Regions from separate parts of the Homo sapiens genome. Here region 1 is linked to region 2. The links come from fine-mapping of genetic effects on gene expression. A gene starts in region 2. The other region holds a variant in brackets. All regions are shown on one strand. Distances are from middle to middle. Region 1 holds the start of IPO13 (importin 13). Region 2 holds the start of DPH2 (diphthamide biosynthesis 2).

Region 1 (5,364 bases), 21 kb before region 2:
TTCTCCTGCCTCAGCCTCCCGAATAGCTGGGACTACAGGTGCCTGCCACCATGCCCGGCTAATTTTTTGTATTTTTAGTAGAGACGGGGTTTCACCGTGTTAGCCAGGATGGTCTCGATCTCCTGACCTCGTGATCCGCCCGCCTCAGCCTCCCATAGTGCTGGGATTACAGGCGTGAGCCACCGCGCCCGGCCTACTTGCTATTCTTTATTGATGAAGACTTGCTGAATGACTTAGAGTCCTACTGGATTTTGCTTACCAGCTAAATGGGCCCCTCTCCTTCCCAGGCTCTCTATTCTTCAAGCTCAGATCAAGTTTCTCTTCTCAGGGAAGCCTTCATGGACCTTCTCAGGCCTCAGCAGCTGCTGCCAATGCCAGCTTCCAATGCCAGCTTCCTCCATTTGAACAAAACTACGGAGCTCTTTGCACTTTTAATTTTTTCCTCTTCCCTGCTAGGGTAGCTGGCAGGAGTTAATAAACAATAAAATACAACTGGAGGGGTGACAGGCAGGAACTACCGGGGCCTGTGGCAGACCAGATCTATGGCATGGTCTGCCACCCTGTCTGTGTGCCAGGGGCAAGATAAGCCTAACTTTCCCCAAGCTCGATTTCCTCATCTCATCTGAAAATGATGAATAAAAATATCCACCTCAGAGCTATTAAGAAAACTGAACCTAAGGTAAGCAAAGTCCTGCTCCTAGCACTTAAATGTAAGCTACTCTTACTCTAGTTACACATAAAGTTACTTCCAAAAACCTTACGAAATTCCCCGAGCACTGTCCATGGTATGTGGTTTCCCGGTTGCTTATTGGGTGGTCCCGAGAGCCTTCCTTTTTTCCTTCCTGAGGCGTGCCAAGTCCCCTCTCCTCTTCTCTGGGTGGTGCTGACGCCTTCTTCCCAGGCTGCACCTTTGCTGGGCCGGAGGATGCCCCCGGCAGCGGAGCGCCAGAGTGACCAGGCAACCTCCCCAGCCTCCACCCTCTAGCCCGGGCTCCCACCTCCGTCCTCCGGCCCCTCGAGTCACGTCGTCCTACTAAGGAGTTGGGCCGCAGCGCCCCGCGCCGGTCTGACCCGGAATGCCTGCTCGCCGCGGTAGGCCGAGGACAGGCGGGGCTCTGCAGGTCCCCAACCCACGTGCTCCCGGCCTCCTCCGCAGGGCGCCGCCTTCCGGCTAGGCGCAACACGGACTACATTTCCCAGGGTGAACAGCGGCGGGGCCTAGACTCGGCCGCGGCCTGGGGCGGCGAGCCGCTCCACCGCCTGCTCAGGGGAGTGCGAGCTGGCGCGAGGACAGGGCTAAGGACCCGGAATGAGTTTCCGCGCAGTTCCGCTGGGCCGTGCCGGCCTGTACCGGGCCGTGCCGAGCCAGAACTGGCAGGAGTGGGGGCCTGAGTTGGAGGTGCCGGGGACAGGCGCTCGGGGCAGCCCGCGCCTTGCCGAGGTCCCTGCCCCGTCCCGGCCGGCCTGGCTTGTCTTGTCAGTCACTGGGGCGGAGGCAGCGGCTGTAGCGGGGCTGTAGCCGGGCGTTGAGCACAGCGCGGGCCAGGCCGAACGGAAGGGACCTGCCACAGCCCCTCAACTCCACGGACTCTTCGCCCTAGACTAGCGGAGCTGCATCTCCGCGCTTCGTTGGACGCCTCCGTAACCACGAAGGGCTCTCTCTCTCCCGTGACCCTCCAGCCCCATGACCTGTTCATAGCAGCCGAGAGCTCACCCAGGCGGGGGTGTTGTGGGTACAGGCCATCGACCCTGTGACCCCTCAAGAGCCAGGGACTCGGTTTCCCCCGCAGGCCTCCCTCCCCTGTGACTCCCTCCACACAGATTCTGGGGACAGAGCTGTTACCTGCCACTAGGATCCCCGCCTGAGAGCTCCTCACTGACGGCTCCCTCCTCGGAGTCCCCTTCATTGGGTCTCCTAAGAGCACCAATTTTGGTCTCTGGCAAGCCTCCCACCCCCAAACGAGGTGGGGAGGCCTCGGCAGCCATGCCCGCCCTGGGCCCCCCCTCACCCCACCACTCCCTGGGCACCCAAGCCGGGGTCTAGCAGGGGGCCAGCAGCCAAGGGGCTGGGGCAGGAGACAGATCAGGGCCCACCTCCCTGCCAGGGAGGGAGCAAAGATGGAGCGGCGGGAGGAGCAGCCGGGGGCTGCAGGGGCTGGAGCAGCACCAGCCTTGGACTTCACTGTGGAGAACGTGGAGAAGGTATGAGGGCTCTGGGGTGGGCACTCCAGTGACAGAGCAGAAGTTCTGGGGACTGTCACTGATGGCAGAGCTCAGGCCTGGGCTGGGTGCCCGCTGGTATGGTGCCCCCAGAGCACCTGGCATTTGCTCTCTTTCTGGGCAGGCAGTATTGCAGTGCCCTAATGGGCTATTTTTGTCTTTCCTTACAGGCAGGTCCCCTGTGGATAGATACTCTAGGGTCTTGGGATGGTCCCTTCAGGGTGCTGTGACTTAGCCTTCCGTCCAGACTGGCTATGTTCCAGCTCCATGGGAACTGCATGAGCAGTGCAGTAGGAAACTGGGAACCCAGGAGACCTGCAGCTCAGTCTCCTGGAATTATACTGATGCCAAACCATCCTGGACCTGGTTTTGTTGAGCCAAGGGCTCAGAAAATAATCTGGAACTAAAACAATCTGGGTTGTTTTGACTCTTTGGAGAAGGGTCCTTCCTTTATTGGATGGAAGCCAGACCAGTCCTGAGCAGGCAGGCCTGGGGCTGTCTCCCTTTGTTTTGTGCTGAGTCCAAGGGTCCTGGCCCTGCTGGGAGCCTTACAGGGCTCCTCCCTACTCGCCTGCCCACATAGCTCCCTGCCATGGCCCTCCCAGGCTCCCCGACTGCCCAGCCCATCTTTCTGAACTGCCTCTTTGGTTCTTTTCTGTATCTGCTCCCTACAACTTGAAATGCAGGAATGCATGCACCCTGGGATGAATGGGGAGATGGGGCTCCCTTACTTGAAAGCAGGGAATGATGTT[C/G]ACTTGTTATCCTTAACCCCCGTTTGCCATAACAAACAATGAGGATGCATCTCTTCTGCCTGCTTTGGCGTCCCTGAGGGGCCAAACAAGGGCCAATGGCCATAACTGGCTGTCAGGGGTACAAATAGAGCTAAGCTTACTTGGATGGAGCCTGCTTAGGGGTCAGGGTCCTGGCCATACTCTTCCGCCCCTTGGAGCAGGGCAGTGTTGGCATGGTGGCGCACTGTTCCATGTGCTATTGGGAGATAAATCTCACTGTTTTCTTACTTCATAAAGTCCCGTTGGAATTGAGACCCCGGGGATTCTGCTAGTGGAGAGCACTAAGCTAGGTGTTTGCCAGGGCTGCAGCTATGGCCAAGGCTTCTCTGGATCAATTGGTTGGACATGTGCCCTCTGAGGAGTGTTCTCACCCTCTCCTCCAGCATGTCTGCCCCAGGGCTGCCTGGCAAAAGTCTTAGTCCTGCTCTGATTTCACACTGGCTTTGGTGCCAGCATCTGGACTGACCTAGGGATGATCCTGGGGGAGCTGAAAGGAGCTGTTGGAGTTGATGGGAGCAGCTGTGCCTGGGAGGGTCAAGTCCCCTCAAGCTGTTCCATGCCCTTCTCAGACTTAGCTTCATCCCTGTGAAGCTGTTCCTTCCACCTGGGCCTTGCCCTCAAGTGCCTCCCCTTTGGGGAGATCAGCCTCCTCTTTTTTGCTTTCCTGTGGAGATTCCCTCTCTGAACCCATAATGTTTTGCTGTAAGGAGAAGAGGATATGGTAGAGCATGGGCAAGGTTCAGGCTCTCAAGATATCAGCAGGACCCCAGGCCCAGGAAACACTGCAGAGCGCTGAGCTCTCCCTGCTCAGCCCCCCAGTCAGGGAGAGGGAGCAGCCTTGCAGGACCAAGTCACGCCTCTGTTCTGGGCTCTGGCAGGATCCAGAGTGGCCAGCACCTGCTCAGTCCTGTGCTGTCCTGCAGGCGCTGCACCAGCTCTACTATGATCCCAACATTGAGAATAAGAACCTGGCTCAGAAGTGGCTGATGCAGGCCCAGGTCTCCCCACAGGCCTGGCACTTCAGCTGGCAGCTACTGCAGCCCGACAAGGTACCAGAGATCCAGTACTTTGGGGCCAGTGCTCTTCACATCAAGATCTCTCGCTACTGGAGTGACATCCCCACTGACCAGTATGAAAGCCTAAAGGCACAGCTCTTCACCCAGATCACCCGCTTTGCCAGTGGCTCCAAGATTGTACTGACTCGGCTGTGCGTGGCACTGGCCTCACTGGCTCTCAGCATGATGCCTGACGCTTGGCCATGTGCTGTGGCAGATATGGTACGACTCTTCCAGGCTGAGGACTCACCAGTGGATGGGCAGGGCCGCTGCCTAGCCCTGTTAGAGCTGCTGACAGTGCTGCCTGAGGAGTTCCAGACCAGTCGCCTACCCCAGTACCGCAAAGGCCTGGTGCGGACCAGCCTGGCGGTGGAATGTGGGGCTGTCTTCCCGCTGCTGGAGCAGCTGCTACAGCAGCCCAGCTCACCCAGCTGTGTGCGTCAGAAGGTGCTCAAGTGTTTCTCCAGCTGGGTGCAGCTGGAGGTGCCGCTGCAGGACTGTGAGGCGCTCATTCAGGCTGCCTTTGCTGCTCTGCAGGACTCGGAGCTCTTCGACAGCAGTGTGGAGGCCATTGTGAATGCCATCTCACAGCCTGATGCCCAGAGGTGAGCTAGTACCCACTCACCCAGAAGACAACCTCTTTGGCCAGCCACACATCCATCCATCCATCTGTTCAATAAACATTAATTGAATGTGTACTGATACCTGGTCCTATGCTGGAGATACAGCAAGGAACCAAAGAAGACATGGTCCCTGTCCTCATGGTTCAGACAGGGAGGCAGACATTAAACAACTAATTATCAGTTATTCAATTAAAATATTTGACTCTCTTTTCCTTCTCTCAACTAGTCACCAAGTCCTGGCTGTTCCCCTCCTGACCATATTGCAAATCTATTTTTTTCCATTTCCATTGCTACCACCTTAGTCCAAGCTGTCATCATCTCTCTCCCCAGATTACTGTAGAGCTTGTCCTCACTCTTGTACCCTTCATTGTCCCAGCAGCCACAGTGATCTTTTGAAAATGGGGATCTAATCTTTCTGATCAGAAGCTTTCAGTGGCTTCTCAATGCTCTTAGGTTAAAGCTCAGAATCCTTAATGTGACTCATAATGGTGCTGCACAGTATGGCATCACTGGCCTCATCTCATGCTACTCTCCTTGCTCTCTACACGCTCACACAGTTTCTTTAATTCCTTGAATGTCCCATGTTCCTTTCAGCCTCTGGCTCATTACATATACTTGACACCTTGCCTCAGCTTAAACTTCATTTCCATAGGGAAGTCCTCCATGGATTCTTAA
Region 2 (5,349 bases):
CAGCTGTGCTGGCCCTCAAGTTCCCTGAGGCACCTACTGTCAAGGCCTCCTGTGGCTTCTTTGTGAGTCCCATGCTGAACCCTGACCCACTGCCACCCCAGTGCCCTCCCCTGCCCAGGACTTCAGACAGTAGGGCTGGGGTGTACAGGTCTTGTCCTCAGGGAGAGCTGGGAAGGAGCTGGGCTGATGGGCCTCTCCATCCTCTGCAGACAGAGCTGCTGCCTCGGTGTGGGGAAGTAGAGTCTGTGGGAAAGGTGGTACAGGAAGACGGTCGTATGCTGCTCATAGCAGTGCTGGAGGTGAGACGGAGCAAAGGGGGGTTTGATGGGGGTGAGGGCCCCTCACTGCTGAGGCAGCTGGCCTTCTGGGAGGCTTGAGCCTTTGGTCCCCTAAGCTCTCAGATTCTGTTTCTTCTTCAATTAAATGCCTGAAAGTTGTTAGGATTGCTGTGGGGATCAGCTGGCTCTCAAAAAGCAGCGCTCACTGTGATGTGCAGTTTGGCTTAGGAACTGTCCAGAGGGCAGTTAGGCATTCTTGCTGCAGAAGCGGCGGAAGGGGCAACACCCTGGTGTGCTGAGAACCCCTCTCCCTCAGGCCATTGGGGGCCAGGCCTCCCGCAGCCTCATGGACTGCTTTGCCGATATCCTGTTCGCCCTGAACAAGCACTGCTTCAGCCTCCTGAGCATGTGGATCAAGGAGGCCCTGCAGCCACCTGGTTTCCCCTCTGCCCGCCTCAGCCCTGAACAGAAGGATACCTTCAGCCAGCAGATCCTTCGGTGAGCAGAGCTGGGGTGGGCCTGGGGTCAGGCAGAGAGGGGGCAGTGGTGGTGGCTGGTGCTAACCTGCTCTCCCTTTTCTCCTTCAGCGAGCGAGTGAACAAGAGGCGGGTGAAGGAGATGGTGAAGGAGTTCACACTGCTGTGCCGGGGTCTCCATGGCACAGATTACACAGCTGACTACTGAGGGGTGCCCCCATCCCATCCACCCCTTCTCTTCATCCTTCCCTATTCCCAAAGAGTAAACCTGGACCCTCACTGCTGTCTCTGCCTCCTTTCTGCTGTCACCACCACCTAACTGAAAGCCTGGGTCCAGAAGGCCTGGGGGAAGGATGGGAGGATGCTTGGACCCAGGCCTTGGGAGGGAATGGTGGGAACATCCTCTAGCTCCCAGGTTGGAAGAGATACTACTGTAGCCAAGCCACCTAGGCTGGAGCCCTTCAGAATACTGTCATTGTCCTTGGGGCGGGGTGGTTGCAGTAGTGTCATCAACCCCCCCATCCCCATTAAATTAATCCCAACATGCATGTATGCATACATTTATTTAATCAACACCGCCGAATATTAGGCCCCTAGCTCTGTCCTGCGTCGTTCTGCCCTGAACAAAGGTTGATCTAGTCCATAGCTACCATGGAGAATGGTAGGAAGTGAGGGAAGGCTGCATGGAGAAAGTTTTTGACAGGAATAGTAGGCTTTCTAGGTAGAGGACTTGAGACTTTGGGCTGCAAGTGGGGTAGGGCTGGGTCCGTTTAGGAAGGAAGAAATGGAGTGGAGTTTTGACTTCCGGGAGGGGTTTCTGGTGTGGAGTTATACAACATCGAACTTGCATATGGTTGAGGAGGGCTATAGAAAGGGGCTGAGTGTGTGTGTATTGGGGGGTGGGTGGGTGGCAGGGAGGTGAAGGAGAGAAGATATCTCAGCCGCAGAGGAGAAAAGAGGAAAGTAGGACCTAAGGTTGTCCATATGTCCGCTGCTCCCCGCTTACACAGGACCTCCAGCACAGGATGGTCAGGGATCAATCAGCACCAGGGACAGCTCCTGACCTATTCTTGCTTTTCTCCCTTAGCAGTGTTGCCTCCCTTTCTGTCTCCTCAGCTATAGTTTCACCTAGGCTGCCTCTCAGGTACCCCAGGCTTCTCCTCAGTAAGATCTGAAGAGCAGAATGAGTTCTCCCCACTTTTACCCTTGAGCTTTCAATCTCCTTGTGGGTGATGGGGAACTCGTTACTCCCACATTCATCCCACTCCTTCCCTGTTCAATAGATCCGGGTTTGATGCTGGTTGTGCCACAGAATTAGTGTCTTATTACACAAGTAGTCTCTTTGAACCTCAGTTTCCGTATCTGACAGAGGTATGTAAGGAGGGCATTTCAAGTGATGTTGCATGTGGGGGTGTTTGCATATAAGTAAACATGGGGAGTAGAGGGGATGTGAGGGGCTGGAGGGTAGAGGTCTATGTGGTATGCACTGGGGGTATTGCTGGGAAGCAGCAGTGTTTGAGGATGGCTGGAGCTGTGCAGAGCATCTCCTGTGACTTGAGGATGTGCCAGTCATGTCCTTGGTACCACTCGGGATAATTCTTACTCCAAAGACTGTAAACACTAAAAATGAAGTGCCTAATGTACAGTAAGTGCTCAGTATTTGGCTGATTAAATAGCAAATGCTTTCACTGCATGCGATATCCAAAGAACTACTTTGTAAAGTTTTGTATATAAATTAATTAGACCCTCACAACAATCTTATTAAGAGGTACTATTGTCACAACTCCCCATTCTTCAGATAAGGAAATGGGCATAGGGACATTCCTAAGATACTCAGTAGCAAGTGACCAAGCACAATATTCAAACCCGAGCCGGTCGGCACCAAGTTTAAAATTATGCAGTGTAGCCGGGCACGGTGGCTCACGTCTGTACTCTCAGCATTTTGGGAGGCCGAGATGAGTGGATTGCTTGAGTTCAGGAGTTTGTGACCAGTCTGAGCAACATGGCAAAAACCTGTCTCTACAAAAAATACAAAAATTAGCTGGATGTGGTGGTGCGCCTGTAGCCCCAACTACTCAAGAGGCAGAGGTGGGAGGATGGCTTCAGTCCAGGAGGTGAAGGTTGTGGAGATCGCGCCACTGCACTCCAGTCCAAGCAACATAGCGAGACCTTGTCAAAAAAAAAAAAAAATGAATGAATGAAAGAATTATGCAGTGATACTGCCCAGAGGATAGAGTGCACGTGAAATGCTTAACAGTGAAGTCGGTGTTCCTGATGGCCGCGGGTCGGCTGAACCGGACTCCCAGCGCCCGAGAGGAGGCCAGGGGAACTACAATGCCCACAAGGCTCCGCGCCTTCCTCGATGTACTTCCGGCTGGCCTGGGACTCAGGCTGAACATTGGTTCTCTGTGCGGGGCGGTGGCGGGGATTGGAGGGCGGGAGCTGTGCTGACTTAGGATTGGCAAAATCGCTATCAGCCACGCCTCTAAAACCCGGAAGTAACCTCCCCGGTAGTCCCACGTGTAGCGGAGAAACAGTAGTTAGGATGGCTGAAGGGGATACTCACCGGCTGAAGGCCGACTGTGATTCCCCCTACCCCCACAAGGCGATTTTGACCCCCTGAGGGCTGCTCTAGAGGACTCAGGCCCCGAAGCTGTCCCAGGGAGGTCCCCGCTGCATCCCACCACCCAAGCTGTGCCTCATGGAGTCGATGTTTAGCAGCCCTGCCGAGGCGGCGCTGCAGCGAGAGACCGGGGTGCCAGGACTGCTTACTCCTCTTCCGGACCTGGACGGAGTGTACGAGCTGGAGCGAGTCGCTGGATTTGTCCGCGACCTGGGGTGTGAACGAGTGAGGACAGACTTAGGGAAGGGTGGCTCGCCTCTGTCGGGATGGGTCGCCCAGAGGATCCGGATCTTGGGGGATTTTGTGAGGGCGAGAGGGTGGGGGAATCAGTCTGTCCGCAGCGCGTTGACCATCCCTCCCTTCCACCTACTACGTGGGGCAGAGTGCCCCTCTGGGACCAGGGGCTTTGAAGGTTGAGTGGGAGCTCCTGGAAGATTGCTTTAAAGAAGCCCTCAGTGGGAGAGAGGCTGTCCCTGACTCCATGGTTTATGCTTATAGGTTGCCTTGCAGTTCCCTGACCAGCTATTGGGAGATGCTGTGGCTGTGGCTGCACGACTGGAGGAGACGACAGGGTCAAAGATGTTCATTCTGGGTGACACAGCCTACGGCAGGTGTGAACTTGGCCTTAGGTGGGCCAGGCCTGGGGATCCGGGGCTCATGGGGTTTTACGTCTATGACAGTGATTGCCTTCAATGGTGGTGTTTCTCCTTGATGATAATGGTAATGACTCCCCTTCTGATGCTAGCTCCTTTCATTGACAATGTCTTCCTTTAATGAAACCATTTTATTCACTGACCACATTTCCCAGTGATGACAGCAACTCGCCTCCAGAAGAGAACCCATTTCTCTGATGCTATCTTCCCTGCAGCTGCTGCGTGGATGTGCTGGGTGCTGAGCAAGCTGGAGCTCAGGCTCTCATACATTTTGGCCCTGCCTGCTTAAGCCCTCCAGCCCGCCCACTGCCCGTTGCCTTCGTGCTTCGTCAACGTTCTGTGGCCTTGGAGCTCTGTGTCAAGGCCTTTGAGGCCCAGAACCCAGACCCCAAAGCGCCTGTGGTGCTGCTGAGTGAGCCGGCCTGTGCCCATGCCCTGGGTAAGGGGTTTTGCCTGTGTATGCACAAAGGGTGAGCCAACTGCTTTATGCCTTAATTTCCCCATTTCCATATACCATCCATAGAACTCTTGATATGGGCTTGGCCCCAGCCTACTGGGTCATATTTAGTCTCCTGGGGATGAGGGAGCTCCTGCTTTGCCAGGCTCCAACCTCAACACTACCTCCTTCTCTTCCAGAGGCTTTGGCTACTCTCCTGCGCCCACGGTACCTGGACCTGCTAGTCTCCAGCCCAGCTTTTCCCCAACCAGTGGGTTCCCTGAGTCCAGAGCCTATGCCCCTAGAGCGTTTTGGGCGCCGCTTCCCCCTTGCCCCAGGGAGGCGTCTAGAAGAGTATGGTGCCTTCTATGTAGGGGGCTCTAAGGCCAGCCCTGACCCAGACCTTGACCCAGACCTGAGTCGGCTGCTCTTGGGGTGGGCACCAGGTCAACCCTTCTCCTCCTGCTGTCCAGATACAGGGAAGACTCAGGATGAGGGTGCCCGGGCTGGACGGCTAAGGGCACGAAGACGATATCTGGTAGAGAGGGCCAGAGATGCCCGCGTGGTAGGGCTGCTGGCAGGCACACTGGGTGTAGCCCAACACCGTGAGGCACTGGCCCACTTGCGGAACCTGACTCAGGCTGCTGGCAAGCGTAGCTATGTGTTGGCCCTGGGGCGGCCCACCCCTGCCAAGCTTGCCAACTTCCCTGAGGTGGATGTCTTTGTGCTATTAGCCTGTCCTCTGGGTGCTCTAGCCCCCCAGCTTTCTGGTAGCTTCTTCCAGCCTATACTGGCACCATGTGAGCTGGAAGCTGCCTGCAACCCTGCCTGGCCACCTCCAGGCCTGGCTCCCCACCTCACACATTATGCGGACTTATTGCCT

The links.
Region 1: its variant is fine-mapped to the expression of DPH2 in whole blood (TOPMed, PIP 0.98).

Annotation. Positions count from the first base shown.
Region 1 is chr1:43,945,483-43,950,846 of GRCh38, forward strand. IPO13 (importin 13) reads left to right here and starts at 1,468. Exons shown (of 20, transcript NM_014652.4): 1 at 1,468-2,202; 2 at 3,935-4,671. The coding sequence starts at 2,119. LOC101929609 (a long non-coding RNA gene) reads right to left here and starts at 1,117. Exons shown (of 2, transcript NR_188535.1): 1 at 999-1,117. RefSeq lists a silencer at 1,264-1,513. The variant C/G (reference allele first, on the strand shown) is at 2,973.
Region 2 is chr1:43,966,721-43,972,069 of GRCh38, forward strand. DPH2 (diphthamide biosynthesis 2) reads left to right here and starts at 3,290. Exons shown (of 6, transcript NM_001384.5): 1 at 3,290-3,602; 2 at 3,876-3,988; 3 at 4,246-4,469; 4 at 4,667-5,349. The coding sequence starts at 3,456. IPO13 (importin 13) reads left to right here. Exons shown (of 20, transcript NM_014652.4): 17 at 4-62; 18 at 210-299; 19 at 595-776; 20 at 866-1,302. The coding sequence ends at 962. RefSeq lists enhancers at 3,321-3,600, 4,086-4,632, 4,633-5,177, 4,963-5,349.